2 separate regions of the Homo sapiens genome follow, and region 2 is linked to region 1. The links come from fine-mapping of genetic effects on gene expression. A gene starts in region 1. The other region holds a variant in brackets. All regions are shown on one strand. Distances are between the middles of the regions.

Region 1 (16,170 bases):
GCTAAACTACCTGATATGGTTTAGCTGTGTCCCCACCCAAAATCTCATCTTGAATTGTAATCCAAATTGTAATCCCCATATGTTCGGGTAGGGACCTTGTGGGAGGTGATTAAATCATGGGGCTGGTTCCCAAATGTTGTTCTCATGATAGTGAGTGAGTTCTCACAAGATCTGATGGTTTTATATGGGGCTTTTTCCCTCTCCACTCTGCACTTCTCTCTCCTGCCACCAGTTGAAGAAGGACATGTTTGCTTCCCCTTCTGCCATGATTGTAAGTTTCCTGAGGCCTCCCAGCCATGAGGAACTGTGAGTCAATTAAACCTCTTTGCTTTATAAATTACTCAGTCTCCAGTAATTCTTTATAGCAGTGTGAGAACAAACTAATACAGTAAATTGGTGCTGCTGTAAAGATACCTAAATATGTGGAAGTGACTTTGGAATTGGGTAACAGGTAGAGGTTGGAATAGTTTGGAGGGTTCAGAAGAAGACAGGAAGATGTGGGAAAGTTTAGAACTTCCTAGAGACTTGTTAAATGGTTTTGACCAAAATACTGATAGTGATATGGACAATGAAGTCCAGGCTGAGGTGGTCTCAGATGGAGATGAGGAACGTCTTGGAAACTGAAGGAAAGGTGACTCTTGCTATGCTTTAGCAAAAAAGTGAAGCATTTTGCCCCTGCCCTAGAGATCTGTGGAACTTTGGTGGTTTTTTTTTGGCGGGGGGGGGTGTTTTGTTCAACTTTATTGAGGCATAATGCACACTCAAAATATTACATACATTTTAAGTTCTCAGATCAAAACTTTGACAAATGTGTACACCCACATGACCAACACAGTCAAAATATAGGACATGAAGGTCACCCCAGAAATTTTCCTTCTGCCTTTTTGCAGTTAACTCCTCCCCAACTCACAGCCCTGGAAAATCACTGATCTGTTTCTCTCACTGTATATTAGAGTTCCCTTTTTTATAGTTTCATATAAATGAAACCATGTGACATATAGTCTTTCTTTTTTTTTTAATTTTTTTATTTTACTTTAACTTCCAGGATACATGCACAGAACTTGCAGGTTTGTTACATAGGTATACATGTGCCGTGGTGGTTTGCTGCACCCATCAACCCGTCATCTAGGTTTTAAGCCCTGTATGCATTCGGTATTTGTCCTAATGCTCTCCCTCCCCTTGTCCCCCACCCCCAGTCAGGCCCCGGGGTGTGTTGTTCCCCTCCCCATGTCCATGTATTCTCACTGTTCAACTCCCATTATGAGTGAGAACATGTGGTGTTTCTGTGTTAGTCTGCTGAGAATAATGGCTTCCAGCTTCATCCATGTCCCTGCAGAGGACATTATCTCATTCTTTTTATGGCTGCATAGTATTCCATGGTGTATATGTGCCACATTTTCTTTATCCAGTCTATCATTGATGGGCATTTGAGTTGGTTCCAAGTCTTTGCTATTGTAAATAATGCTGCAATAAACATATGTGTGCATGTGTCTTTACAGTAAGATGATTTATAATCCTTTCAGTATATACACAGTAATGGGATTGCTGGGTCAAATGGTATTTCTGGTTCTAGATCACACTGTCATGAGATCTGTGGCTCTTTGGACTTGAGAGAGATGATTTAGGGTATCTGGCAGAAGAAATTTCTAAGCAGCAAAGTGTTCAAGAGGAAAGAGAGCATAAAAGGTTGGAAAATTTGTAGCCTGATGATGTGATAGAAAAGAAAACCCATTTTCTGAGGAGAAATTCCAGCCTGCTGCAGAAATTTGCATAAGTAATGAAGAGCTAAATGTTAATCACCAAGACAATGGGGAAAATATCTCCAGGGCATGTCAGAGACCCGCAGAGCAGTCCCTTCCATTACCAGACCAGAGGCCCAGGAGAGAAAAATGGTTTTGTGGGCCAGGCCAGGACCCCCTGTTCTGTGCAGCCTGAGACATGGTACTGTGTGTCCCAGCTGCATCAGCTCCAGCCATGGCTAAAAGGGGACAAGGTACAGCTCAGATCATTGCTTCAGAGGGTGCAAGCCCAAGCCTTGGCAGCCTCCTTGTGGTGTTGAGCCTGCGGGTGCACAGAAGTCAATAACTGAGGTTTGAAAACCTCCACCTAGATTTCAGAGGATGTATGGAAACACCTGGATGCCCTTGCAGATGTTTGCTACAGGGATGGAGCCCTCATGGAGATCCTCTGATAGGGCAGTATGGAAGGGAAATGTAGGGTTGGAGCCCCCACACAGAGTTCCCACTGGGGCACTGCCTAGTGGAGCTGTGAAAAGAAGGCCACCATCCTCCAGACCCCAGAATGGTAGATCCACCAACAGCTTGCACTGTGAGCCTGGAAAAGCTGCAGCCCATGAAAACAGCCAGAAGTGGGGCTGTGCCCTGCAAAGCCACAAGGGCAGAGCTGCCCAAGGCCATGGAAGCCCACCTCTTGCATCAGCGTGACCTGGATATAAGGCATGTAGTCAAAGGAGATCATTTTGGAACTTTAAGGTTTAACGACTGCCCTATTGGATTTCAGACTTGCATGGGGACTGTAACCTCTTTATTTTGACCAATTTCTCCCATTTGGAATAGGTGTATTTACCCAATGCCTGTATCCCATTGTATCTAGGAAGTAACTAACTTGCTTTTGATTTTACAGGCTCATAGGCAGAAGAGACTTGCCTTGTCTCAAATGAGACTTTGGACTTGGACTTTTGGGTTAATGCTGGAACGAGTTAAGACTTTGGGGGACTGTTGGAAAGGCATGATTGTGTTTTGAAATGAGGACATGAGATTTGGAAGGGACCAGGATAGAATGATATGATTTGGCTCTCCCCTCACCCACAATCTCATTTTGAATTGTAATTTTGAATTGTAATTACCACGCACTGGGGGAGGGACCTCATAGTAGGTGATTGGATCATGGGGGCAGTTCCCCTATGCTATTCTCATGATAGTGAGTGAGTTCTCACAAGATCTGATGGTTTTATAAGGGGATTTCCCCCTTTACTCTGCACTTCTTTCTCCTGCCAGCATGTGAAGAAGAGTGTGTTTGCTTCCCCTTCCACCATGATCATAAGTTTCCTGAGGCTTCCCCAGCCATGCAGAACTATGAGTCAATTAAATCTCTTTCCTTTATAAATTACCCAGTCTCAGGCAGTTCTTCATAGCAGTGTGAGAACAGACTAATACACTACCATCATCATTCAAAAGAATAAGGGCTTACTTCTCATTGAGGTGATCACAGAAGGCTTCCTAGAAAAAGCAGCCTCTGAGACAGGCCCACAGGGATGAAGAGGGTTTGAGCTGATATAATGGGCATTGGGCAGTCCAGACAAAGAGGATTGAATCAGCAAAGGCAAAGGGATAAGAAAGCATAGAGCAGAGTATGTCATATGTGTGTCTGCAGCTCATGAGCCATGAAGAGGAGTAATGAAAATAAGATCTTAAAAAAAACACCAGACAGTTCAAAGCTAAGTCTGCAACCTACTATGTGAACTTGGACAACTCAGGCCATCTCTTCAAATTTCAATTTTCTCATTTGTAAAATAAGAGTAATAACTCCTGCTTTCCAAGGAATAATCTCCCTCCTCGAGTATCTTGTCTCTCTCTGTTATTCTCCATGCCATAAAGTCAGAGTAATCTTTCTAAAATGCAAATATGAGCATGTGAGCCCCATCTCTACCCCATGAGTCTTTGTGGCCTTCAGGATCAAACAGGAGCTCCATGGCATCGCTCACAAAGTCCTCCATGATCTCGCCTGGCCTCACCTCTCCATCCTCACTGCCAGCACTTGCTCCCTCCACAGCAAAATTTGGGATCACACTGACATACGTGCCATACTTCAGTGCCTTCAGGCACTCTCACAACAGAGAGACTTTGCATCTGCTCTCCCCTTTCCCATGTAACTGACTCCAACTGACCCTTCGAGACTCAGCACAGACATCACTTCTCCAGGAAGCTTCCTTCTATGCATACAGCACCTGTTGGGCCCTATATTGTGCTCATTTACTTCCTTCTCTCTCCTTTCTCACTGGTTTTTGCATCCCAGGGCTAAGCACAGAGCCTGGCACAAAGTGGGAATTCAGTTAAAGTACATTAAAGGAGGGAAGGAAAGAAGGGAGGGGGGAGGGAGAGACAGAGGGGGAGGTACAAATAAGATAATGTGAATTAAAATGACTTTAAAAATTGTAAAGCCCAATACAAATGTTAAGTATAATAATATTAATAAGAACTACACCTAAGCTGTGGATCCTTCCCCCCAAAATTTATAATCCAGTAGGGTAGATAAGATCTCTCAAAACTGAAGCAACTCCCGTTTCCCCTGCAGACTACTGTCTCCCCTGCATCTTTCCCTGTCAACACATAGGGTTGTACCCAATGAGGATAAAAGCCTGAAATGCTGACTCCAGGACAGTATTGGCTTAAATGTGATTTTCATGTGTCACATGAAATGTTCTTTTCACGCCAAAACCTCCCCAGTCATGCCTTCGTACTCCACTGAACTGTCTTCCTAACCCTCCAGCAGGAGGAAGGAAAGACTTTGTCAGACTCACCTAGGTCAGTCACCTCCAAATTGCCCCGAAAATCATTCCACTGGACCCAGAGCACCCATGCCAGTTCAGCTCACAGACAGCGCAGCAGCCCCAACATCTTGCCTATAGAAAGAGGTACCAGCCCCACCTCCCTATTCCCTACACCAGCCACAGCCCAGGACCTATAGGACTGGACCTCCCAAGAGCTGCAGGCCTTGCTTTTCCAGGAGAAACAGAGGTCATGGTTTGTATCAAACCACACACATTCTTTCTTGTGCCTACAGATGAGACTCACAGGACACAGGCAGTGAGGCTGCAGGACAGCAGGCTTGGGAGAGCCAGTCAAGCACCCATAAGATAGTAGAGAAGCAGCAACAGAAGGTGAGGTTTGGATTTCTTCTCTGGGGTTGTGTGATTGCTCTTGAGCTGATGTCCCTCTGAGTGGAGAGGCAGGCCTGATCTAGAGAGAATTCCAGGGCATGGCCAGTCTTTTCTTCTGCCTCAGTACCAAGGAAGCTTGGCTTTAAACCCAGCCTCTGAATAAACTGGCCTCACCTCATGTACTGCTCCACCTCAAAATTCAACTGCCCAAGCTCATGTGCTAGCCTAGAAAAAAAAATGGCCTTTAAAATTACAGGACTCCTTGCTCCTCTTTTTGAGTGGAAGTTCAACGTAATAACGATTTGTTGAGCACCACATATGTGCAAAGCACTTGATAGATCTAAGAGGGATGAAAGAGGATAATAAAGGGCAGTCCCTGGGGAGGAAACAGGAAATTGGCCACACAGGGCCCCTGCTAGGATCCAGCCCCTGTACCAGAGCTGCCTCAGGAGGCTCTTTCCACCAGCCTAGAATCCCAAGGGCAGAGGAGGGAGAGAGAAAGAAAGAGAGAGAGGCCACAGCAGGGATGGCACAGAGACGTAACCTTACCATAGGGGTCAGTGGCACTGTTGTAAAGCCTCAGGGTCTACTAGGCAATGTTCCGCTCCTGTTCTCAGGCCAGCATTGATTAAAGCTAGCCCAGCAAGCTTGGTTGGAAGATGAGGTCTCCCTGGTTCGCACATGGCCCCTCCCTGTATCCCTACTCCAACACTCACACAGACACGCGCCACAGAGACAATGAACTCTGCTGAGGACCCATGAATAGGCCCCTTGTTGCAGGAAAGGGGGACAAGGGCTGGGCTGGGCTAGGCAACCCCAGCCCCTCCCATCTGCTAACTGGAAACTCAGAAACAGAGGAAAAGGTTATGGGGAGGAGGGGAGGCCAACTACTGTTGCTTAGCAACAAGGTCCCTTGTGCCAAAAAGTGTGCCCCATGCATGCATGCTGGCAGAATTCTCCCTTCCTGCTGACAGAGCTGTATTGGAGAGACCGATATTAGCATTTGTTGAAATGTTTCTGAGCCCTCTGGATTTTATCTCGCCTCCATGTGGGTTGGCTTTTCTAGCAGTCTGGGGCTGTCACCATGTTGGAATTGTTGGGGTGATGATGGAAGATCTTTGTCACCTCTTGCCCGAGGGCCACATCTGTCTCCCCAATGCCAGGGAAGTGGGGCCTCTACCCCTGTCTGCCCTGGGAGCCAGTTGCAGCAGGAGCCCTCAGTGCTATCTTGTTTCAAAGCACAAGGTGACCCAAGTGAGCCCACACGGGGCTAAACACACCTGGGAGCAGGCACATCTCTTTAGACAAGGAGGCAGAATAGGTCCTGGGGAAGGCAAACACAGGTGGGGCTTCCTTTCCTCCAACTGGCTGCTCAAAAACCCCTCAGAAGGGACAGTTAAGAATATAGGCTTTAGAGTCAGGCCTTCATCCAACCTCAGTTCTCCCACTTCCCTTACTCAGCCTCACCTGTAAAATGAGGATAATAGTACATGCCTCATAGGGTTGATGTCAGAATTCATTGAGATATTGCCTATAAAGCCCATAGCCTGGTGTCTAGCACAGACTGTATTCAGCAAACAGTAGCTGCTATTATTATTGTTGTTGTTGTTGTTGTTGTTGTTGCTGAATGTCACCCACACAGGATTTAACTTTTTGCTCCCTATTTTCCTCATACACTGTATTAGTCAATTCTTGCACTGCTATAAATAAATACCTAAGACTGGACAATTTCAAGAGAAAAGAAGTTCTCACTGTTCCACAGGCTGTACAGGAAGCACAGTGACTTCTGCTTCTGGGGAGGCCTCAGGAAGCTTCCAATCATGGTGAAAGAAAAAGGGGGAGCAAGGCCTCTAACATGGCAGGAGCAAGAGCAAGAGAGAGAAGGGGGAGGTGCCACACACTTTTAAACAACCAGATCTCATGAGAACTCTATCACGAGAATAGCACCAAGTGGATGATGAATCATGAAGGTTTCTTGATCATGAAGGATCCACTCCCATGATCAAATCACCTCCCATCAGAGTCCACTTTTAACATTGAGGATTATAATTTGACATGAGATTTGGGTTGGGACACAGATCCAAACCATATCATACACTCAGTGTGTCAATTCTGAACTTACTCTCATCACACCAGAGCACACATAAGACAATGAAGAGATAGAGGTCAGCTGTGAATTATAGAAGAAGGAGAGAAATGGTGGCTGGAACTCAGAAGCCCTTGGCTAGGCTCTGAGGTCTCCTAGGACAATACTCTTCAGACTACAAACCTGAATATCTACCGTGTGTCAGAAACTAGCCTGGGCATGGAGGATGAACAAGTCACAGACTGGGTGCTTACAGACTGGAAAAAGGGATAGAAACAGATGTAAGTAACTGTTATTATGAAAAGTGAAATAACAAAGACATAAACCCAGAGGTATAGGAGAATAGAGGAATAGCTGCCCTGAGGATACAAAGAAGAGGGCTTTGCAATGGAGGAGACATTTGAACTGAGTTTTGAGAAGTGACAAAGCAATCACAAAGAAGGGTAATTAAAATATATTGCACGTAATGTCAATGAAAATGGTAGGAGTAAAATCCTCTGAAAATTTCCTCCCCCCTAAAAGCAATGAGAAAAATGGCAAAAAATGGTGAGAATCAATTTTTTCAGAACTCTGGAAATTAATCAAAAGTTTATAGCAATCTGGGAAGTCTTCGTTCAAGAAAAAAAATGACATAATTATAGAAAGAAGAGTGAGCCTTGTGGCATTTTAACTTGCTCCAATTCCATCCCCCTCACCCCAACTCTGCAGTAGCTTTGAAAACCAACAAACCACAATCATCATGGAAACCAGCAGCCTGGCAGCTACAAGAAGGGGTAGAACAGCCTTGGAGTTCCTTCAAAGCCTCATTCCCAGAGAGTTGTAATTATTTGACCTGTCTAGTGGTTCCCTGGAAGATACCATTTGCAAGACTGTCTTTATTTCACCTGTCTCAAAGCTTGCCTGGAGTGAACAGCTTTTTCCTTAAGGGTATTTGTTGAAAACAACTAGAGACAATTGTTGGACTTTGTGGCTGCCTAAAACAATGGATAACAGTTGAGGCAAAAAAAAAAAAAGGGCTAAACAAAAAGCTTAAAAAGAAAATGTGGGGGAATAAAATATCTATAAAGGGCCTTGAAAGGCTCTGAAATATCCCAAGGAATATAGAAAGCCATATGTACGCACAGGAGGGTGCACATGCCCAGGGCTGTGCACATGTGCAGGAAAAACTAAGGAAGGTCCTGAGCTCTCACCCTGGGCTAAGCTTAAGGCTCTGCACAAGCAGGAAGGCTAAGGTGGAGTTGTCAATGTCCTGTCTGAGAGTTGAAGGCATGTCCCAACATACACACAGAGCCACTCTGCAAAAACAAGGTGACTTATTGGTCTCAAGCATCAAGAAACTCTCTGTCTAATTACTAGCTGAACACTAAGCAGAGAGAGATTTCAGTGGCCACACATGACAAAAAACACAGACTTTGCAGAATTAGCTCAGAAAAGTCACTAAACACACAAAGAAGCAACATCAACAACAACAAACCCTGAGGAAGGGAGAGAAGGTTATTTCCAAAGTTGCTGTATTATATTATGTTATTTAAAATGCAGTTTTCAATAAGAAATTATGAGGCACACAAAGAAACAAGAAAGTAAGGCACATACACCGGGGGAAAAAATAATTGATAAAAACTGTCCCTGAAGCCCATATATTGAACTTATAAGATGAAAACTTTAAATCAGCTATTCTATATACATTCAAAGAAGTAAAGAAAACCATATCCAAAGAACTAGAAAAAGGTATGAGAATAATATCTTATCAGGTAATGAATATCAACAAGGAGATAGAAATTATATATTTTTTTCAAGAACCAAATATAAATTCTGGAGTTGAGTAGTATGATAGCTGAAATGAAAAATTTACTAGAAGGGCTCAACAGCAGATCTGAGCAGGCAGAAGAAAGAATCTGTGAATTAAAGATATGTAAATTGATATTATACAGTCTAAGGGATAGAAAGGAAAAAAGAATGGAGAAAAATGAACAAAGGTTCAGAGACATTTGAGATAACATCAAAAATATGTAGTGTGTGTGTGTGTGTGTGTGTGTGTGTGTGTGTACGTGTGTGTAATGAGAATCCAAGAAAGAGAAGAGAGAGGAAGCAGAAATAATATTTGAAAAAATAATGACCAAAAACTTTACAAATTTGATGAAAAATATTAATCTGCACATGCAAAAAAACTCAATAAACTTCAAATAGGATACATCAAAGAGATCCACACGTAAACACATCATAATCAAATTGTTTAAGGCCAAAGACAAGAAAGATTCTTGGAAGCAGCATGAGGAAAGCAACTTATCACATACGAAGGGATCTTCAATCAACAGTTTAACAGTTAAGAGTTGGCTTCTCATCAGAAACCATGGAAGCCAGAATGGCATATTCAATTCCTTAAAGAAAAAGATTGTCAACCAAAATTCTGTATCTAGCAAAACTACCCTTCAAAAGTGAAATAGTAATTTAGATAATCTCAGATAGACAAAAACTAAGAGAATGCATTGCTAGCAAACCTGTCCTACAAGAAATACAGTCATGTGCCACATGACAGTCAACAATGTACCACATATTCAACAGTGGTCCCACAAGATTATAATGAAGCTTTTATACTGTATTTTTAATGTATCTTTCCTATGTTTAGATACATAAATACTTAGTATTGTGTTACAGTTGCCTTCAGTACTCAGTATGGTAATATGCTATCCAGGTTTGTAGCCTCAGAGCAGTAGACTATGCCACATAGCCTAGGTGTGTAGTAGGCTATACCATCTAGGTTTGTGTAAGTACACTCTATTTCACACAATGACAAAATCGCCTAACAACACAGTTCTCAGAATGTATCTCCTTCATTAAGTGATGCATGACTATACTAAAGGGAGTCCTTTAGGCTGAAATAAAAAGATATAAGACAGTAACTTGAATCCACATTAAGAAATAAAAAATGCTAGTAAAGGAAAGTATATAGGTAAACATAAAAGACAGTATAAATGCATTTTTTTGTTTGTAATTCTTTTTGTTCTCTCATCTGACTTTAAAGACAATTGCATAAAGCCATAATTATAAATCTGTATTGATGGGTATATGGTGCAAAAATATATAATTTGTATGACAATACAGCACAAAGTAAGAAAAGAATGGAAGTAATAAGAGCAAAGATTTTTATACTATTAAAATTAAATTGGTATTAATCTGAATGGATTGTTATAATTTAAAATGTTAATTGAAATTATCAGGCTACTAAGAAAATAACTTAAAATGTATATAGTAAAAGAAATGACAGAGGAGTTAAAATGGAACACTAGAAAATAACTGTTTAACACAAGGCAGAAATGAAACAAAAACACATAAGACATATAAAAAACAAATAGCAATATAATAGACATAAATCCTACCTTATCAGTAGTTACACTAAGTGTAAATGGATGAAACTCTTCAATTAAAAGGTAGAAATTGGCAGAATGAATTTTTAAAGCCATGATCAAGCTATATACTATATATAAGAGACATATTTTAGTTTTAAAGACAAAATACGTTGAAGGCAAAGGGTGGAAAAAGAGGTTCCATGTACACAGAAACCAAAAGAGAGCTGGAATAACTATAATAATATCAGACAAAATAGACTTTAAGACAAAAATCATTGTGAGAGACAAAGTAGGACATTTTATAATGATAAAAGAGTTAATCCTGCCAGGCACGTTGGCTCACACCTGTAATCCCAGCACTTTGGAGGGCTGAGGTGGGTGGATCACTTGAGGGCAGGAGTTCAAGACCAGCCTGACCAATATGATGAAACCCCTTCTCTACTAAATATACAAAAATTAGCCAGGTATGTGGCATGCACCTGTTATCCCAGCTACTCAGGAGGTTGAGGTGGGAGAATCACTTGAGCCCAGGAGACAGAGTTTGCAGTGAGCTGAGATCGTGCCACTATACTCCATTCTGGGTGACAGAGATAGACTCCATCTTGAAAAAAAAAAAGAGTCATTTTCTGTGGGGCACTGCCCGGTGGCTCTGGCCCCATGGGGCCATTGGCCCAGCTTGCCATTCCCTGAGCTCCGGTGGCCCATTGTTGGAGGAGCTGTTCGCCCAGGGCAGGCCCTTGTGGACCTTTCTCAAGCTCCAGGCGGGGTCTGAGGCCCATTTGAAGGTCAGGAGGCCCGAGCTGGTGACAGTGGTAAAACTGCTGAACGAGAAGGAGCAGGAGCTGCAGGAGACCGAGCACTTGCTGCACCATGAGAATGAAGATTTAAGGAAACTTGCAGAGAATGAAATAACTTTGTGTCAAAAAGAAATAACTCAGCTGAAGCATCAGAAGAAACAGATGAAAATGATTTGATCCTGGAAGTAACTGCAGGAGTTGGAGGTCAGGAGGCAATGTTGTTTACTTCAGAGATATTTGATAGGTATCAGCAATATGCTGCATTTAAAAGATGACATTTTGAAACCCTGGAATATTTTCCAAGTGAAATAGGTGGCCGTAGACATGCGTCTGCCAGCACTGGGGGTTCAGAAGTCTATAGGCACATGAAATTTGAAGGAGGTGTGCACAGAGTACAAAGAGTGCCAAAGACAGAAAAGCAAGGCTGCATCCATACTAGCACCATGACAGTAGCAATATTACCCCAGCCTACTGAGATTAATTAATTGAATTGATCCCTTTACCATTATGTAATGGCCTTCTTTGTCTCTTTTGATCTTTGTTGGTTTAAAGTCTGTTTTATCAGAGACTAGGATTGCAACCCCTGCTTTTTTTTGCTTTCCATTTGCTTGGTAGATCTTCCTCCATCCGTTTATTTTGAGCCTATGTGTGTCTCTGCACGTGAGATGGGTCTCCTGAATACAGCACACTGATGGGTCTTGACTATTTATCCAATTTGCCAGTCTGTGTCTTTTAATTGGGGCATTTAGCCCATTTACATTTAAGGTCAATATTGTTATGTGTGAATTTGATCCTGTCATTATGATGTTAGCTGGTTATTTTGCCCGTTAGTTGATTCAGTTTCTTCCTAGCATCGATGGTCTTTACAATTTGGCATGTTTTTGCAGTGGCTGGTACCAGTTGTTCCTTTCCATGTTTATTGCTTCCTTCAGGAGCTTTTGTAAGGCAGGCCTGGTGGTGACAAAATCTCTCAGCATTTGCTTGTCTGTAAAGGATTTTATTTCTCCTTCACTTATGAAGCTTAGTTTGGCTGGATATGAAATTTCCGGGTTGAAAATTCTTTTCTTTAAGAATGTTGAATATTGGCCCCCACTCTCTTCTGGCTTGTAGAGTTTCTGTCGAGAGATCCGCTGTTAGTCTGATGGGTTTCCCTTTGTGGGTAACCTGACCTTTCTCTCTGGTTGCCCTTAGCATTTTTTCCTTCATTTCAACCTTGGTGAATCTGACAATTACGTGTCTTGGGGTGCTCTTCTCGAGGAGTATCTTTGTGGTGTTCTCTGTATTTCCTAAATTTGAATGTTGGCCTGCCTTGCTAGGTTGGGGAAGTTCTCCTGGATGATATCCTGAACAGTGTTTTCCAACTTGGTTCCATTCTCCCTGTCACTTTCAGCTACACCAATCAAACATAGATTTGGTCTTTTCACATAGTCCCATATTTCTTGGAGGATTTGTTCATTTCTTTTTACTCTTTTTTCTCTAAACTTCTCTTCTCATTTTATTTCATTAATTTGATCTTCAATAACTGATACCCTTTCTTCCACTTGATCGAATCGGCTATTGAAGCTTGTGCGTGCATCACGTAGTTCTTGCACCATGGTTTTCAGCTCCGTCAGGTCATTTAAGATCTTCTCTACACTGTTTATTCTAGTTAACCATTCATCTAATCTTTTTTCAAGGTTTTTAGCTTCCTTGCAATGGGTTAGAACATCCTCCTTTAGCTCAGAGAAGTTTCTTATTACCGACCTTCTGAAGCCTATTTCTGTCAACTCGTCATTCTCCATCCAGCTTTGTTCTGTTGCTGGCAAGGAGGTGCAATCCTTTGGAGTGGAAGAGGTGCTCTGGTTTTTAGAATTTTCAGTTTTTCTGCTCTGGTTTCTCCCCATCTTTGTGGTTTTATCTACCTTTGGTCTTTGATGTTGGTGACCTACAGATGAGGTTTTGGTGTGGATGTCCTTTTTGTTGATGTTGATGCTATTGCTTTCTGTTTGTTAGTTTTCCTTCTAACAGTCAGGTCCCTCAGCTGCAGGTCTGTTGGAGTTTGCTGGAGGTCCACTCCAGACCCTGTTTGCCTGGGTATCACCAGCAGAGGCGGCAGAACAGCAAATATTGCTACCTGATCCTTCCTCTGAAAGCTTCATCCCAGAGGGGCACTCACCTGTAGGAGGTATCAGTCGGCCCCTACTGGGAGGTGTCTCTCAGTTAGGCTACACACGGGTCAGGGACCCACTTGAGGAGGCAGTCTGTCCTTTCTCAGAGCTCAAACACTGTGCTGGGAGAACCACTGCTGTCTTCAGAGCTGTCAGACAGGGATGTTTAAGTCTGCAGAAGTTTCTGCTGCCTTTTGTTCTGCTATGCCCTGCCACCAGAGGTGGAGTCTACAGAGGCAGCAGGTCTTGGTGAGCTGCGGTGGGCTCCCCCCAGTTCAAGCTTCCCCGGCCACTTTGTTTACCTACTCAAGCCTCAGCAATGGCAGACGCCCCTCCCCCTGCCAGACTGCTGCCTCACAGGTCAATCTCAGACTGCTGCGCTTGCAGTGAGCAAGGCTCTGTGGGCGTGTGACCCACCAAGTCACGCATGGGATATAATCTTCTGGTGTGCCGTTTGCTAAGATCATTGGAAAAGCGCAGAATTAGGCAGGACTGCCCCGTTTTTCCAGGTACAGTCTGTCACAGCTTCCCTTGGCTAGGAAAGGGAAATCTCCTGACCCCTTGTGCTTCCTGGGTAAGGCGATGCCCCGCCCTGCTTTGGCTCCCACTCCATGGGCTGCACCCACTGTCCAACCAGTCCCAATGAGATGAACCAGGTACCTCAGTTGGAAATGCAGAAATCACCCATCTTCTGCGTTGATCATGCTGGGAGCTGCAGACCAGAACTGTTCCTATTCAGCCATCTTGGAATGGAGAAAGAATATAGCAGCTTAGTTCTTGACCAGTTTGGTCCTCTGTCTGCCCCTTTCATCTAGATTCTCCCTCAAGAAGGCTGGTAGTGGCTTGGGTGCTTAGTGGGGAGATCTCATATCACTTTTACACAAGTCTTGGCAGCCAGCATCCTCCCTAACTCAGCCCCCAGCTCTGGCCATTCTCATTACCATCAGGCTGGCTGTGACTTAATCATTCTGGAGGAGGCTGTATTCAAACCTTTGGTTTCTAGTATAACACAAGTTATCCTAGAATAGGCCCTATTAAACCCCTTGGTTTCTAGGTTTCTAAGGATAATATAGCAATTTTTATGTAGATTCTAATTTCTATTAACCTGGGTAATGAAAATGGAAAGGGGTCACTAAAGACTCCAAAATAATGATTAAAACAAACTACAGCCAACTGTCAATTATCCAAAGAGGAATTAAAACATGGAAACTATGAATACATTGTAGTCCCTGCTCTCAAAGGAGTTTATAATCCACTTGAGATGACAAACAAATACACCAAAGGGAGTGACCTGAGAGGATAGGTGGTAAAAGTAGATAGTGTGGGCTCAAATAGAATCAGCAGCCCTGAGTTCCACAGTGTCATGCTGAGGTCATGGTTTACACTGACCGTATTGAAACCCTAACCCTGGGAATAGTGCATGGTAGCATCTGCAGGCTGACAGTACCTAACCAGCCCTGAAGGAGTGGCTCAGAAGTCAGGTTCTGCTGGAGGGACAGGGTTTGGAAAGAGCTGGCAGAGGAATGACAGAAGGTCACCAGGGAAAGGAAGGCTGAGACAGGCCTATTTCCAAATTTTCCAGGGCAAGCTCTAGCCAGTGAACCCTGAGTTTGCTCTGGACTTGGTTTTTCCTATTGAAGATACCCAAGAAAGCATCAGGCAACATGACTGATCTTTTCCCTCACAGTTTTGGCCCCCAGGCCAATGGCTCTTAACCCTGGGTGGTTCACTGGAATCCCCTGGGAAGCTTGATACTAAAACAGTCATCCCTTGGCCCTATTTGAAACTCCCTGAAACATCACCCCTCTAAATGGGGGTCCTTGTGTCTGTTTTTACCCTGGTGATTCTGGGGAAGCAACATCTCAGCTAAGCTTCTCAGTCTTCTTTAGGCCTAGTAGGAGCAGCAGGAATTGGAGGAGGGAAAGTTGTGTCACAAAAGAGTTATTTTTAAAATCATCAGTTACCCTGAGTATCTTTCCATGGTATATGGTGTGCCATTACCTTGGACAGACTTACATCATCTTTGTAAAAAGAGCTGTGTTCCTCCATCAGCTGCCACACAGCCAAAATTCTACTCAAAGAGATCCATTGTGTTGGAGTGAGGCATTGTGTCTCCAGTGTCTAGCACAGTCTGGTACATATTAAGCGTATAGGCCAGGATAGGCCAGGTTATGCTGTAGTAGGGAGCACCTCCCAGGTCACAGTGGCTTAAAACAACAAAGGTTTATTTCTTACCTATGCTTCAGGTTCACAGGGATCAAGCTGGGGACTTTTGTCCACATATCCTCAGTTAAAAACCCAAACAATAGAGTAGCCTCCATCTGGAATGTTACTGGTCACAGTGGCTGAAAGAAAGAGGGTTCTGGAGGACTTCACACTGGAAATTAAATGTTCTGGCCACTTTCAGTTCATTAGCCCAAGATGTCACATGCTTCTGCCCAACCATGAGGAGACCATGAAAATGCAATCCTACAATATGCAGCGAAGCACAGAGCCAGAAATACATGAACAGCACTAGTAACTACCACAATGGGTATTCAGTAAATATTTGTAAAATAAAATAATGGATGAGCAGAAATCACCTTACAAGACAAGGTCATTAAGTCCACCTTTAACCCGCAATGACATTTTTTTTTTTCCCCTGGGATAAGAAAGAGGTAAGTGAAAGCAGGACTAAATGATTGAGCACACAGCTCTCCATCTTCTTTGTCACCCTGGTTGGCACAGCCCGTAGGGACTCTGGCTGGCCCTCTTCTCTCTGTAAGAGTCCCACTTCTGGAAAAAGGTAGCTCAGTTGCCCTGAGCCTCTGTAAGTCATGTTTGAGTAGTGTGAGAGATGGCTCTGGTGTTGCATGACAGTGGAATACTCACAATTATAGGGCGATCAGGAGCT
Region 2 (16,170 bases), 150 kb before region 1:
AGCTAGGAGACAGGGACTTTAAATGTCTTTAATGAGAAGGCCCAACCCTATTGCTCAGGCCCAGGCCCAGCTGGCGGTGAGTGAGGCTTAGAGGATGAAAAATATAAAGAGGCACCACTCTCAGGGCTGACCCCACACAGGAGCAATTCTGAGAGTGGGTGCTGCCTTAAGATATAGGAGTTAAAAACAAATTATTTAGGCAGATAGTGAGGGTAAGGAAGTCCTCACTAAGGTTTTCCTTTTAATGAAAAGCAGCCCCAAAATCATTTTCTTTTCTAACAAAGAGCAGCCTGTAAAATCGAGCTGCAGACATAGAAAGGGAAGCTGGAAGTTTGCACGGGTGAATGCCGGCAGTTATGTCAATAGAAATAGGCTACCTGGGACTAGGCATGATCAAAATTTGGCTCCATCTTCCTGTCTCTTTGCCAGCCACATGTACAATAAGGAGCAGGCAAGATCCTGGCCAAGTGGAAAGCCCATTTGCATAATAAGATCAGGGTGGGGCTACCAGCCTTTCACTTCGTGCTATGTATATGTCACACCTTGTGGAACTAATCTGTGGGCCCTATGTAAATCAGACACCACCTGCTCAAGCCTGCCTATAAAATCTGCTGTGGTATGCCTCAGGCCAGTTTTTCCCTTTCAGATGCCCAGATGTCCATCTCTCTCCTTTCTTCTGCCTATTAGACTTTCTGCTCCTTAACCCATCCATGTGTGTCCGTGTCCCTAATCTTCTTGGCGCCAAATGACGAACCCCAGGTATTTACCCCAGACAATGATGCTGCTTCACTTATGTTTTGTACCCTACTCACCTCCCCCAGGGCCTGGTCCCATCCCCCTACACCTCCCCACACCACCCCCCACCCCCAACACACACACAAACTGCAACTCAATCTTTCCATAAGTCAGTGGTTAGAAATAAAACAGCTGCTTGCTCCTAAAACCTCCCAAACCAGAGCTGCATTGAACTTGCTGGGCCTGTGATGGGGGTTTGTGCACTGGGTGCTGGTGCTCTTGGCTTGTGTTGGCTCATGTTAGTCACCACCACCTGTGTCTCTCTGATGTTGGGTTTTACTGTATCCTTATGATAACTTGGGTGTTAACAAAAAAGTTTTCTTTTTTTTTTTTTTTCCAAGAAATTCTCTTTTATCTTGCAGAAAGAAAAGCACTTTAGGAGGAAAACTCAAAACAACAGACGTCACTGATGGTTGAGACTCCCCTACAACTGAAACCAGTTTTTAAATGATGGCTCTCTTAAGCCAGAAGGAATTCCCAGAGGCCCTCAGGTCCAGCCTCCAGCATCCAGCTAATTGTAGCTCAGCAGCTGCATCTCGGGCTGGGCAGCAGGGAGCTGCTGCTTCCTCCTTGCAGTATACTGGGAAGTCTGTGTCACTGCAGAATGCAGGAAATAATATTTACCTTATACATTTGACAGGTTGTTAGGAAGACCTGAATAAAGTAATCTACATTGTACTACTTGAGCGCTATAAAATGAAAGAAGTTACTTAAAATCTCTAGGAGTAGGCGGGCGCAGTGGCTCATGCCTGTAATCCCAGCACTTTGGGAGGCCAACGCAGGTGGATCACTTGAGGTCAGGCATTCAAGAGCAGCCTGGTCAACATGGCAAAATCCCATTTCTATTTTAAGAAATTACAAAAAATTAGCTGTGCATGGTGGCATGTGCCTATAATTCCAGCTACTTGGGAGGGTGAGGTGGGAAGATCGCTTGAGCCTGAGAGGTGGCAGTTGCAGTGAGCCAAGATAGCGCCACTGCTCTCCAGCCTGGACAACAGAGTGAGACTCTGTCTCAAAAAATATATATAAAATAATAAAATAAAATCTCTAGGAGTAGTTAAACTTTACATCTCTTCATTACTATTTCAGCATATAGTCAACTGTGTGGAGAAAGTTTCTCCCTACTTCTAATTAGCTTCCCGTGCTGCATATCTTATCTGTCCTCTGAAGGTAGATAAAACCATGTTTGAATCCAAACTCCACCATTCTTAGCTGTGTGACTTTAGGTGAGTCGTCTAACCTCCCCAAGCACCCCATTTCCTTATATGCAAAGTGAGAATGCAATGTCTCCTTCAAAGGGCTATTATGAGGGTTGAGTGCAACAATGCAGATTAAGTACAGGGAACACTGGCATTGTTCATAAACAGTCTCGCTGCCAAAACAAAACATCAGAGTTACTCAAGATCCATTTCATCCTCTTGTTCTTCTCCAGAGTTAACACTCCTGTTGCCTCTAGCTCTTCCCAATTCTCCAATCCCTGATTTTTAAACTAGTGATTCTTGAGTTCTTTAGGGTTCTCAACGTTATTAAGAATCAGATGAAAATTTCAGACCCTCTCCACCGAAAATTTCAATGGCAAACTTTTGCATACAATTTCAGGAGGCTCAGGAACCTTTCAAAGCCCATCCATGTGCCCCTTCCCTGGTGAGGAGAGTGGACCCCAGATACGAAACTCAGTTTTGAGAATCCCCCTACGGCCCCCACCCCCTCAAAGGCAGCATCCCAGAAGCCGCCCTCTCTGCAGTTTCTGGTTCCTGCTGGCCTCCTACCCTAAGGATGCAAATTATCAGCAGGCCAAGGCATCTTGGAGGAGCCTGAGGTTTAGGAAGAAAGAATCAAGCTAAGAAGTGGACCTCAGCACAGCCTGAACCTGGCAGAACGAAGGCCCAATTACCAACTTCAGACTTTCAAAATGTCAGGTCCAGTTTATTGGAAATCTTTCTCAGCTAAGAGGCATTCACAGAACCAAGAGGAGAAGTTGAGACAGAGGCAGGAGCTACCATGGCTGGCAGATGGGAGGCATCCTGGAACTTACAACTGATGCAGGACAGGCAAGCCCCAAAGTAGGGCTTGGCCCGCCAGGGTTCTTGGCTTCACCCAGGAAAGAACTCAAGGGCAAGCCGCTGGCAGGGTAAAAGAAAACAGCTCTATTGAAGCGGCAATGTTGCAGCTCCAGTGGTGTTACTGCCCCGTGACTGCTCCAGCAGAGCAGGGCTACCCCACAGGCAGTGTGCTGAGGGTAGCAACTCAGGGCAGTTTTGCAGTCATATTTATACCCATTTTTAATGACATGTAGATTAGAGGGTGGTTTATGCATAAATTTCTAGAGAAAAGGTAGTAACTCCTGGGTCATCCGGTCATTGCCATGGAAAGGGGCAGTAATTCCCTGGTGTTGCCACGGCAATGGTAAACTGACACAGCATACTGGTGGGCGTGTCTTATGGAAAGCTGCTTCCACCCTGTCCTTGTTGTAGCTAGTCCTCAACTTGGTCCAGTGTCTGGTATTCGAGCCCTGCCTCCTGAGAAGTCCCTTGACAGTATCGCAAAGACCCCAAAGGACAGGTTTAGGAACTCTTTCAAAAACCTATTCTCCCCTGATGGAAAAAGACCTTTATGGTAAAATACACATCTCTTCTACAAACAAGCTGCTGAAAGCTGGCTATCACTATCTCCAGCCATGACCATAGAGAAACCATTCATTTGGGGGCGCTCAATTAGACATATTTTGAGTTCAGACAGAGGTCCAGATGAAAGATCCCCTAGAACAACCTAGGAGAGGTGATGGAAGTCAGACAGATGGCTGAGTTGGCATTCTACTTTTCTGGAGGTTACTTAACTTTTCTGAGCCCAAGTTTCCTCATCTAGGAAAGATGGGTAACTCCCATATCCTGCGGTTGAGTTGAGCATTAAATGAGGTGATATACGTAAAGAGCCTGGCATATAGTAAGCTCTCAGTGAATGACAGCTGCCATTATTATGGTTATTAGTGTTACTCATGGGCAAAGGGGATTGCAAAAATATTCCCATTCACTAAACATGTGTTAAAAGCCTACCTTGTATAGCAGTAACAGGCAATATGCATACAGGATCAAAGGAAGAATGAACCACATTCAGATAATTACATTCTTTATTTACCACCAATTGTTGAGATGCTATTTGTTCTTGTAGGCCTCTAAGGACCTCCCTCTTGCAGAGAACATTTAATGTGGTTACCCCGTGGTTGAGAGATTACAGCTACTTTGGGGCCAGATGAGAAATTCTATAGTTAGACTTTCGTTCATTCAGACCGGCCTTTGCCCTTGTTAATCCTAATTAATAAGAGTTTGCTATAAAGAAGGAAAACCAAATTGACTGGACACCTGTGAGCTAGAAGCTTTCACAGATACTTATTTTTGTTTTGTTTTGTTTTGAGACTCTCGCTCTGTCACCCAGGCTGGAGTGCAGTGGCATGATCTTAGCTCACTGCAACCTCTGGCTCCCGGTTCAAGCGATTCTCCTGCCTCAGCCTCCTGAGTAGCTGGGACTACAGGCACATGCCACCACACCCAGCTAATTTTTTGTATTTTTATTAGAGACGGGGTTTCACCATGTTAGCCAGGCTGGTCTCGAGCTCCTAACCTCGTGATCTGCCCACCTTGACCTCCCAAAGTGCTGGGATTATAGGCATAAACCACTGCACCCAGCCTTCACAGATATTTTATTTAAGCTTTGCAACTCTGCTAGGAAGGTATTATTACCCTCATTTATGAAATGAGAGATTTCAGCTTAAGAGAGAACACTCTTTGTTTGAGATCACAAATAGAACCTCTGGGATTTAAACACAAATCACTAGGACACACCGTTCAGCAAACTGCCTTAGCCTGTTTCCCTCAGAAAGGCCACTTAAGCCTCCACAGCCCTGGTAACAGCTGGAGAGAGTTCAGGCCATTTCAGAGACACTGTGTGAGGAGGCTGAGGGGGACAAGAGAGCAGAAGACATTTCTCCACCTCAGTGGTCCTGTTAGAGAGAAGTTGTATTGGACACTTTTAAAATGGCAAAGAAGACTTTACTCAAGACTATTACAATAAGGGTCAAGACTATTGCAATAGGAGAGAGAGGCTGAATCAACTCCAAATACAATAGGGGCCGCTGAAGATTTCTAGCTAATAGGCAGGGTGGGGGAGAGGATGGAAAATCACTAAGAGAAACTCTGTCAGGTATCAAGGGTAGAGGGGAGGAGAAACTTGATTGGCCACAAGGATGCAGGGATTCTCAGTAAACTGGCTTAGCAGGATTCTTGCCAAAACTGGAAAGAAAAAAAAAGTTCCAATAATATCAGAAAATAAAAAAAAATTAAAAATAAAATAAATAAATAAATAAAATAACTGGCCTCAACAGGCCAAAGATGGGGGCTAAGGATGAGGCCTAGACAAAAAGATGGCTTGGAGGAGCCTGACTAAAGTTTGGTCAAGGAGGGAGTTGTTGTCCTTCCAATGTGTTAGACTGCAAAAATGGCCACAGGTCTCCACTCCTCCCCGTACCCATGTCTTTTGTAATGTGACCCAAGCAATTCCCATCAAGAGCGGAAATCTCTCTGCACCCCTTGACTCTGGGCTGGCCTTACAGCTTGCTGTAACTGGTAGAAAATGGAGGGAGCAGCACAGTGTCAGTTCTGAGCCTAGATCTCAAGAAGGCCTGCTTTTGTCCACGCTTGTTCTCTCTTTCCCTCTCTCCCGCTCTCTCAGCAGCAACCAGAGGAACCGAATAGCAGATCCCAGCCCAAAGTGCTAACCTATAGAATCATGAGCTAGATAAATAGCTATTATTTTAAGCCACTAAATTTGGGGGCTGTTTGTATGAGGCAGTAGATAACTAATACATTCTAAAATGTGTCCACAAATTGAAATCATTTGAGAAGCCTTAAAACATACATTGATGGGTAGGTTTCCCCCACCCCCACCCTGCAGAGTTTCTCATTTACTCGGCCTTGTCTGCAACCTCCACCCTGGGGGTAGGGGGGTCTTAAGGTCCCCCAGGTGATCTCAATGTGTAGCCAAGGTTAAACACCACTGCCTTAGCTCCCCTGGCCTGGGCCATCCTGAAGCAACCCAGTTGGACTCTCCAGCTGTGCAGAGGATTTGCAGGAGGTACACAGGTCAGTTACAACGTGAGCTATTATCAGATGCAAGGGCCCATGGATCAAAGTCAGTGTTTCTCAAATTTTAATGTGCATCCTGATCACCTGAGGCTCTTGTTAAATTAAGATTCTGATTCAGTCGATCTGGGGTAAGGCTTGAGATCTTGCATTTGTAACACACTCTCAGGGGATGCTGAGGCTGTGGACTCTACTTTGCTTGGTCTATGAGATCTTCTTTACACTCACTCCTTCCAAACACCCTTTGTAGGCTTGGCAGCTGCCTCTTAGCTGAACTTTCTCAGATGTACTGTTGTAGCCTAGAGGAGAATAATCTCCAAAAAGTTGCCTAGCCTTGGGGTGGGCTGCTCAGCAGCCTCTTGGAGGGGCACATAGACAGGGCCTAGGGCTCTTCTTGGCTATTTTATACTCCCATGGAATTGATTCTAGAACAGGGGCTTCTGACAAATCTAAAGAAGAGTACTGTATTGGTTTGCAAGGGCTGCCATAATGAAATACCACAGACTGAGGGGCATAAACAACAGAGTTATTTTCTCACAGTTCAGAAGGCTAGAAGGGCAAGGTCAAAGTACCAGCAGGGTTGGTTTCTCCTGAGGCCTCCTCCTTGGGTTGCAGATGACTGAATTCTCATTGTGTCCTCCCATGGTCACACTTCTGTGTGTGTCTGTGTCCTAATCTCCTCTTCTTACAAGGACGCCAGTTATATTTGACTAGGGCCCACACTAGTGACCTCATTTGAACTTAATTACCTCTTTAAAGACCACATCTCCAACCAAATACAGTCATGTTCTGTGGCACTGAGGGTTAGGATTTCAACATATGGGCCGGGCATGGTGGCTTACGCCTGTAATCCCAGCACTTTGGGAGGCCGAGGTGGGCGGATCACCTGAGGTCAGCAGTTTGAGGATTTCAACATATGAACTTTGAGGAGATACAATTTAACCCATAACAGGTATGCACTTCCCATTCTTCCCGTGTGGAACTAGCAGCAGGACCAATCTTACCAGTTGCAGTCCTGCCTGGCAAAGCTATGGGTGGGAGGTAGCTTGCAAGGCTGTGAAGCACTTTCAAAGGCAGAAGGACCAGTACAATAAAGCTACATTTGAAAATGAAGAATAAGCTAGTGTGGCCAGAATGTATACAGAACACCTGAAGTAAAATAGGATTTTATCTCCAAAGCAACCATGCCATAGCCTGAATCCAGAGTGTTCTAGGCAGACCAAAAGCATGGAATAAAAATTGATTCGGACTGAGGAAATGGTAAAGAGATACTCACAAAACACCCAAGACCACACCACGGAGCCACAGAATCATTTGGAACAGGACTCCTGGGAACAAAATGCTGCCAAAACTTAAGGAGGAAAGTGGGGAAATTCTCTGAGTGCCAATGCAGCACCTTTGTCATCTTACCTTCTTACTGCTTTGTCATCTTACCTTCTTACTGACCTAGTTAACCTCCTTTCCTCACTTGAAACATGAAGTTAAATCCACTGCCTCAAAGG[G/T]TTACTATGAAGATTAAATCACAAAATGTATGTGATGGAACCAGGCTTATTGATGTGCAAATGTGTCAACATTCCCAGCCTCCATCCAACTTTCTCCACTTTCCTAACCCTCATCATACCCTGTCTGAAGAATTTTGCTCAGCTTTTCCTCACCCCTGGTCTTTCAGGGGAGTTCTATCTCTGCCCCATTATCTGGCTTTTTGTGGTACAAATTGGGAAGGATGAAGGGAGAGAGAGAAGCAGGAGAGAGGGAGAAGGCAGAGAGACAAGGTTCTTGTCTTTTTTTTTTTTTTTTTTTTTTTTTTTGAGATGGAGTTTTGCTCTTGTTGGCTAGGCTAGAGTGCAATGACACGGTCTCAGTTCACTGCAACCTCCGCCTCCTGGGTTCAAGTGATTCTCCTGCCTCAGCCTCCCAAGTAGCTGGGATTACAGGTGCCTGCCACTACGCCTGGCTAATTTTTGTATTTTTAGTAGAGACAGGGTTTCACCATGTTGTCCAGGCTGGTTTCGAACTCCTGACCTCAGATGATCCACCTGCCTCAGCCTCCCCAAGTGCTGGGATTACAGGCATGAGCCACTGCACCTGGCCAAAATATTTTAAGAGAAAAATCTGAAGCCACCAGGAGTGGGGTTCAAACCCACACAGACATATGTCCATTGGCTCTTAAGTCCAGTGCCTTTAACTACTTGGCCATCCTGGTACAGGTGGTTCTTGCCTATTGAGTCAGTCCCCGGGACAGCCCTTTGGTATGGACAGTCACATAATTAGCAAACAGAGGAGAAACTAAAGCTGATGCCAGAGGCTTTAAGTCTGTCCGCCTGGTAAAGATCTCAGGGACAGGAGATGCAAGGAAGAAAAGAAAACAGCAGCAAAAACACTAAAGCTAAATGCCAGGGAGCACTGTGGAGTAATTGCCAAGTAAGAGGTTCTGAAGTAGGCTGCAGAGTGTGGGAGACCAAAGAAGGAAAGGCAATGTTGAGAGATCTACTGCAAGGCTTGAATTCAATCATTTTAATGTTCTTTGAGAGATGGCAGTAAAGACTGAAATTTCTGCTTAATTACTTTTGGTTGTTAGAATTTGTTTCTTAAAACATGACTCAATGCAAGAGGCTGGTATGCATGAGACCCTGGGTTTTGTTGGAGGGAGGTGTATTATCTCTGTATCTAATCTCCCTTTGCAGAGTCTCTTCTTTTGCACTTAGTAGCTACTTAATAAATGGTAGATTACCATTGTTATTATTATTATCATTAGCCACCAACCTCATGCTCTGGGGCTGAGATTCACATTCTTCTCAGACATAACTTGATGTTTTGGAAATCCTCCCTCCTGCCATCTCCTGAAAGACTCACCCTACAGACAGTTGGTTTTAGAATGACTGGAAGAAAAACTGGTTTGACCGCGTTAAAGCGAAACAGGCAGGAAGCCATTAGCATGGGGTTGTTTCTGTACCCAAAACCTTCTTACAAGCAGACTAAAACTTAACTTAGAGGCCTTCCTTATAACTGAGTAATTCTGAATTGCGCTTCAGCCAATCACAGATGGTCAACCAACCGACTGGTTATATAACTAGGGGATCTCCCATTCGACCATACCCAGGTAAGGCAAATGCTGCTATAACCAATCAAGTCATTTCTTTATTTCTGCATTCAGCTTATAAAACCTCGCTGCCGTGATGCTGGAGCAGAGTTCTCTGAACCTCATCCAGTTTTGAATGCTGCCTGACTCACGAATCCTGTAATGCTCAAATAAACTGTTAAATGTATCTTGTCTAAAGTTTTTATTTTAACAGCTGGTTACCACTTGTCTCAGCCTCCTGAAGAATCCCAACAACAGGCTCTATTCCAGAGACTTTCGAATCCAAGGCAAAGATATCTCTACTCTAACCCATAGACTCCTGGGCACAGTAGAGTCATTGGAGAATCCACAAATCCACTGGCTCTTTAAACCTTGCCTATGTGCTGAAAAAATATTTTAGCCAATGTACAAGCTATTTTTGAAATGTATGTACTGCTACTAGAGTCAGAGTACTTTCTGTCATTTTCTATCTTCTTAATATATACTTTTATACAATTGCATTGTGTTAAAAAGAGACCCAAAATATTCTTCATGTAAAAAGTGTTCTGATAAACAAACAAAAAATGCTAGTAATCTCTGATATAGAGAATCTAATCTCTGATATAGAGAATCTACAGAGATTCTCTAGGCTGTGGAACTCTCCAGCCCTCACGTGGTAAATAGCAATTGAGTTTGTACTTTGAGTTGTTTAATAACAGCACCTTGAGCCTAAGTGATACAGTATAATAATGATAGCCTGAGGGAAGAAGGCATCTCTGATTAATCACTACCTCACAACCAGCTCTGGGCACTCTCACAGAGCTGGCTTCATTCTGGATCCAGCTTTACTACTTATTTAGTGTAGCCTTAGACAATTGATGTCTCCACTGAGGATCTCAGTGTCCCCAGCTGAACAATGAGACGGTGTGGTTACATGTTCTCAGAATTAAGCTATTAAGCATGGACAGGGCTTGGGAGGACAGTGGCATTTTTCTGGCCTCCAGCTTACAAGGAAAGCACTCTGAATGAAAGGTGTGGACAAATGCAAGACAGTGACCCAGCCCTGACCTGAGGCTATCCACTGAGGGGCCAGTAAGGGAGCAGACAGTAGAATAAGGAGGACTTCCTGGGAGAAATGTCTCAGATCTTAGAGCAATTGTTTACCTAGAAGCGTAAGAGAACAACACATGCTGTGCCAGACTCCCAGGCAGGCTTAGATTACATAGGATGCATACAAGGTTTTCAAGTTTCACCCCAAAAGCCACATTAGTAAAGACTCCTTTTGCTTTTTCCATTATGCAAATCATCTTAGCATCTATTGATTGCATCTGCATGTGAAGAGGGACACTGGGTTTGTAACTAATGTATTTGCATGTGCATTTTAATTAATCCGCTTGCAGGAGGGAGGTGATTAGAGGGGTAGATATGGAAATATTGCTCTCTGTGGCTAATAGAATTTGGCACCTCTGGAGTGCTGTCTGACGAGTGGAATTATTGCAGGCAGGTGGGAGCTGGAGCATGCCCTTCCTGACATGCCCACAGATAATTCACGCTGTGGCCACCATGCACTGTCTCGCCAGCCTGAGGAAGGCAGAGAAATGCAGAGAGCAGGAGAGTTCTTGGATAGACAGATTCTGGTGGTCTGCCCAGGTCTGCATGAAGAACAGCTACTTTATGTTTACATCATTATGTTCTTACATCCATGTGGCTTGGCAGAAGCCATCAGAAAGCTATCACATTATGTCTCTGTGTTGGCAATGCAACTCCTAGGCTTGCCTAGTCAGAAGAAAGCCTCACAGCTGTTTAACTATCTTCTCTGCTCTTTGAAGCTAACATTAATATTATGCCTAATTTGCATCCAACATTTAAATGTACTCATTAAGCTATAAAAGCCACAGCACCTCTTGACAGCCCATTCTCTGATGAAGACTGCAGTCTTGTCAGAGGAATACGGAATATTCCCAGAATTTCTAGAATATAACTTCCCAAAACACATTTTACCCAAATACAAGGTTTTCGTATTAAAAAGGACGAAGTGACTTCTCTCCTGACTGTCTTCAGGGAGATACTGGGGAAGGGCACAGTAGCAGGGGAACCCTAGGGGCTGCCGTAATTAACTGTTGTGGAAAAAGAGTCAGAGTTCTGAAATGCCTTTGTCTGTTTGTTTGTTTGTTGTTGTTGTTGTTGTTGTTTTATCATTTACTCAAGATTCACGTGCAGAAAGAAATGAGTAGGACTGACAGCCAGCTTGAAGCCAGGAACTAAGCTTCAGTTCTTACAGCATCAGTTGCATGAATTCCCTTTTTCCTATGGGAACAACTTAAGATTCCCCACATATGTACTTTTCCAGTCATTGCGTTGGGCTCAATAGGTGAGTCAGGCCTTGTGCTCCAAGTAAACAAGCTCCAAAAGATAGCTAATATACATTTGGTACACCTGGTATGATAGTAAACAAGGCAAAACATGTACTTGGAAAGAGATTCAAATCTACGTGTTTAAAACACAGGGAAGTCTTAGATACAATGTAAAGAATGCAACTGAAAGGAAATTCATAAATAGATGAGAGACAGAGAAGTTTGAAAAGAAAGAAGGTGCCAGTATTTGTTCAGAAGAACAAAGAGGGAGTTTGACATTGAGAGAACAAAACGTTATAGATATTTGTTACTTGAGTTATTGACTTTTAGAATATGTGGCACAAAATTCTGTTGGCTGAGGAGAAGGTTGGTTTCCCTCACCATTACCCAAAGTAGAGCTTCATTCCAGCTTGGAGTCATCAGCCTATGCATCAAGACATCCCCCAGAAACAGATAGGGTGGTCCTGCCTGGAGAAACTCATGGTTCTCTCCTTGGACTTTGAATTCTAGATGGAAGTTTAGGGAGCCCTGCACAGAGAAGGCTGCTGAGAGATCAAATCCTAGCTGGAGAATCCAGGGCTCTGTCCTTGGTCGTCATCTCTAGTCAACCCACACTGAATCCCATGGGCATCTCCTTCATCCTCCCAGCTTGAAATCCCATCTCTATCCTATGTCTCCAAATGTATGGCCCTAGCCCAGGTCATTCTCCTGAGCTCCAGACTCAAGGGCTTCAGTGCTTGTACTGGAGGAGGCTAAGGCAAAGTGGGGTGACTTCAGACAAGAGCATAGGTGCCAAAGTAGAAAATCCCAAGGCATGTTTGCAGGAGGGTGAGTGCCTAGTGTGGCTAAAATTGAGGCCACACACAGGAAAATGGTGGGAAACATGGGAACAACAGGGTCACAGCACACAAAGCCTTCTTTCAGGGGGCCATTGGGAAACACAGCTGCATCTGGATGAGTGTTACAATCAGAGCTATATTTTACACCAATTAACCTGGTAGCAACCAGTAATATGGGTTCAAAGGAACTGAGGAAAGGGGCCAAGAGACTGGATCAGAGGCCAGAAGCAGGATGGTAGCAGAGGTGAGGAGAGAGGAGGTTGGATGTGAGAAACACTTTGTTCTGTTCCTCACAGACTCCCAGCTCCCCCTGCCTCAGGGCGTGAGCACCCAGTTTCCTCTGCTGGAGCCTCCCACCCAGGCTGCCTGCTGTCTCACACGTTCCTGTCCTCATGGTCTCTGTCATGACTTCCAAAGGCTAGTCCAGGCCCCAGCTTCACACTCTCCTTCACCGTACTTCTCGCCACTGCGTTGGCCACTGATGTGTGAGACTGGGAGTGTGACTATCCCTCTGGCCACACTCTCTCTCCACTCCACTGCTCTGCTCCCAGAAGCTTCCAGCCACTCCCAGCATGGCCCAGCAAGGCAGGCAGAGCTCCCAGGCCATCTCCAACAGCTCCAATGCATTCTCTCCTTGCTATTTTCAAAGGCAAATGGTCCAGAGGTTCATTAGATGCCTCTACTCAGTTGGAGAGGTGGTGACCTGTTCAGGAATATGGGGACATGGTGGACAGATTAAAAACCGGGAGCTTGTGCGTGCCACCTGCCCTCACTCATCTGTCTCCTCATTGTCTCTCGGGAAGCTCATCACTTCCTAAGCCACGATCTGCCACAATCCTCAGCAGGCTTTCAGAAGTATTTATCATGCTTCCAAAGTGATTGACTTCTGATGAGAGGTTCGGGAGCTCAGGAAAATGCTCCTGGCTTACAGTGTATTGTGAGTAAAAGAAAAGAAATAACAGGTACTCTTCAAGTGTGGGAGCTGGAAAAGATTCTAATTAAATGTCAGGGCTGGAGTTTAACCCACTTGAATTTGGTGTTTCTATTCTGGAGTCGTTGAGTTTCTCATTCGTAAACCTGGGCTCTGAAGCACCCAACCACAGATATCAAAATCATCCTTGTCATGTCCAGAGGAGACAAAAAAAGAGATCAGAGGTGAAGGGCTCATTTGTTGAGGTGGGATTGAAAGGGGACATGTTTTGAATTCCATCTTGGAGGAAGGTGGCTCTGAAGCAGAGACCACCATGGCTGAGGCGGGGGCTGGAGACGGATCTGTCCCTGGCATCACATACTCAGGAGAGCTGGCCTCACCTGGCCTCAGCACCCACCAAGACCCAGCTCTTGTAGTGTCCCATTCCCATACCTGTCCCAGAGACAAAGCCTAATTGAGGGCCCCATGGAGAGAGCCGGTGCCATATCAGAGCTTTACCAACGTGCTCTGGCGGGAAAGGCTGGCAGATGGGGGGCTCCGAGCCTGCACACATGTGGAGCCACAGGTCCTAGCCTCTCAGATGCCACAGTCACTGGCGCGGGACTCTGGGGTCCTGCTCTCCTGCTACTTGTCCCCAGGACCCCTCATTATCGCTACCATTATGAGGAAAGCAGGAGGGGGTCCCCTTACTGCCCCACCAAGCCAACCGTATTCTCTAGAAGAGCAGGGCTTGCGATCATAATGATAATCTCCATCCACATGTGTTCCCTGCTGAACAGTTTTCAAAGTGCTGCTTTTCCAAGCATTAGAAGGAATAAGTTCCTCCTTATGCTCACTCCAGCCTTGTGAGTACACGACTCTATATTCCTGTTGTGCAGCTAAGGAAATGGACTCCCAGAGGTGACCTGCCTTGCCTAAGTTCAAACCACAAAAACTGGCAGAGAAGGACTTCTCCTCCAGTGCTCTCTTTTCCACCAAGCCTCCAGAGCTGTACGACAGAGTGGGGGACCCGGATTCTCCCTGCAGGTGGAAAAACCAGCTGTGCACACTGGGCTTAATACCAAGAACTGCTCACCAGATCTGCAAATTCCTTTTCCTCCCCGGGAAGCCCAGACTGTGTGGGGGCTTAGAAACCAAGTCGAGAGATGTAAAGAAACCCAGGCAATGAGGTCTTAAAAAATAAATCCTTATTTTAAATATCCATTTAAACAAATGGATGCTAAGTATCTTTCTATTTTTTTTTTTTTTTTTTTTTCCTCTTGCCATCCACAGGTGCAAGAGGAGGGGCGGGGATGAGGGGAGGAGGGAGGAGGACAAGAATGAATGAAAGGCAAACAAATTCCCCCACTCCAGGCAGCAGCATAAACCACTTATTATTAACAGAGGCCCCAAGAGAGTCTTGTTTTTAATGTAATTTGGATTAAGCAGAGAAGGAACACGGGCTCCCACACACACCTTGGCATGATTAAATCAGCTACAAAGGCTGCTAGCCTCCCCTCCCCCGAGGGCTATCACTGGGGCTGGAAATAATTCCAGCTTCTAGACAAGGGATTTGGAGTCCAGGCCATCTCTGTGCCCCAAGGAAGTCCAGCACATACACGCTTGGACAGGGCCAGATAATGCCACCCTCCAAGCAGACCAGCAATCACCTGTCATCTCACTACCCAGGGATTCAACCTCAAAATTGGTTTTCTGTGTTCTCTGAAGACAATGAAGAGCACTTACCCAGAAATCAGCAAGCTTGCCATCAGGTCCTAGCTCTGTCACTCCACTAACAGGGTGAAATGACATTCCTTCTCTCTGAAAAGCTGGCCTGCAAGGGCACTAAAGCCTCACTCAATGCTGGCATTTCATGAGATAAAAAGTGTGCTTTTTCAAGTCCTGCTGTGCAATGTTTTATTCCCACCCTCCCACCCCAAGGACCCACAGAGTGTCCACCACTGAAAGATATCTTTAAAATGTTTATTAAATTAATAAAGAAAGGAACTTCCCCTTTTATCCTGTAAGCTCAGCAGAAGATTTTTGTGTCTGAGCTCTATCACATTTCTTCTTCAGAGTTCTCTGTGGATATGGAAGATCCTAGCTATTGAACTATCCAGTCCCAGAGGAGGGACTGACATGCCAGGTTAGAAAAAGGGTAAATCTATAGCTTGCATTTATATATACTCAGGGGGTAGTGCTTAAAATACTTAAAAACTGGTATGGCAACGATAAATCAGGACAGATGCCTGTTTTGGCATCCAGTACTGCCTCACCAGGGATCTGTGAGTATAGGGAACAGCAGGCATGCATTTATACATGCTGGGTGCTTGGTCTTTGGGCTACTGTGAAGCGTCTTAGAATACATTGCTGTCAAGCTGGCAAACCCCTAGAAAATAGGTTTGAATGTTGTCATTATCCGGAGATATCTCTGTGTCTCTCACTGTGCTTGACTGTATTACTGCTCAGCAAATGTTCATTCTTTTAAGCCCCCAACCCCCTGGGAAGAGGTGCCTCCCACACATCAGATATTGAGTTTGACCATGCCACTTGCTTTGGCCAATGGAATGTGAGTAGATACAGAATACAGACCCAAAGCTTCTAGAAGGGCTGTATGATTATGGTAGACCTCTTGACAGTCTGCTCTCTACCATAAAAAATATATATATATACTCCTTCAGCATAGTCCTGGAATGAGAACATACATAAAGCAGGCATGAACTTGACTCTCAGCCCAATACCAAGTATAGCCAGGCCCAGCAGAATGACAGCTGACCTGCAGAGCATAAGTAAAAACTGTATGTTAATTGCTATGAACCATGAGGTTTAGAGATTGTTATCATAGCAAAAACCAACTCATATACTCACTTCCTTGATCCTTGGCAGGTCCATTCAAATGTGATCCAAATGTTATCATTCAGGTATCATGAAGTAAAGACATGGATGAGCTTTAGAGGCAGGTAGACCTGAGTGCTAATCCCAGTTCTGACATATACTAGATGTGTGATGTTAGGAAAGCTACTTTAGTCCTCGGAACCTCAATTTCTTCTTCTATAAAATGAGAGTGATGGAAAGCACC

Direction of the effects. Positions count from the first base shown, and alleles are read on the strand shown. Sizes are in standard deviations (SD) of each study's normalised expression.
For the expression in testis of the gene that starts at base 5,536 in region 1, allele T in region 2 goes with a higher level than allele G (large effect, 0.90 SD a copy in GTEx).

The links. PIP is the estimated chance that this variant, and not a neighbour inherited with it, causes the effect.
Region 2: its variant is fine-mapped to the expression of TMPRSS5 in testis (GTEx, PIP 0.93).

What each region holds. Positions count from the first base shown.
Region 1 is chr11:113,700,773-113,716,942 of GRCh38, forward strand. TMPRSS5 (transmembrane serine protease 5) reads right to left here and starts at 5,536. Exons shown (of 13, transcript NM_030770.4): 1 at 5,450-5,536. The coding sequence starts at 5,452. It also overlaps the pseudogene MTRF1LP1.
Region 2 is chr11:113,554,224-113,570,393 of GRCh38, forward strand. No RefSeq gene overlaps it. Among named protein-coding and RNA genes, the nearest start is that of DRD2, 87 kb to the left of the region's middle. The variant G/T (reference allele first, on the strand shown) is at 7,433.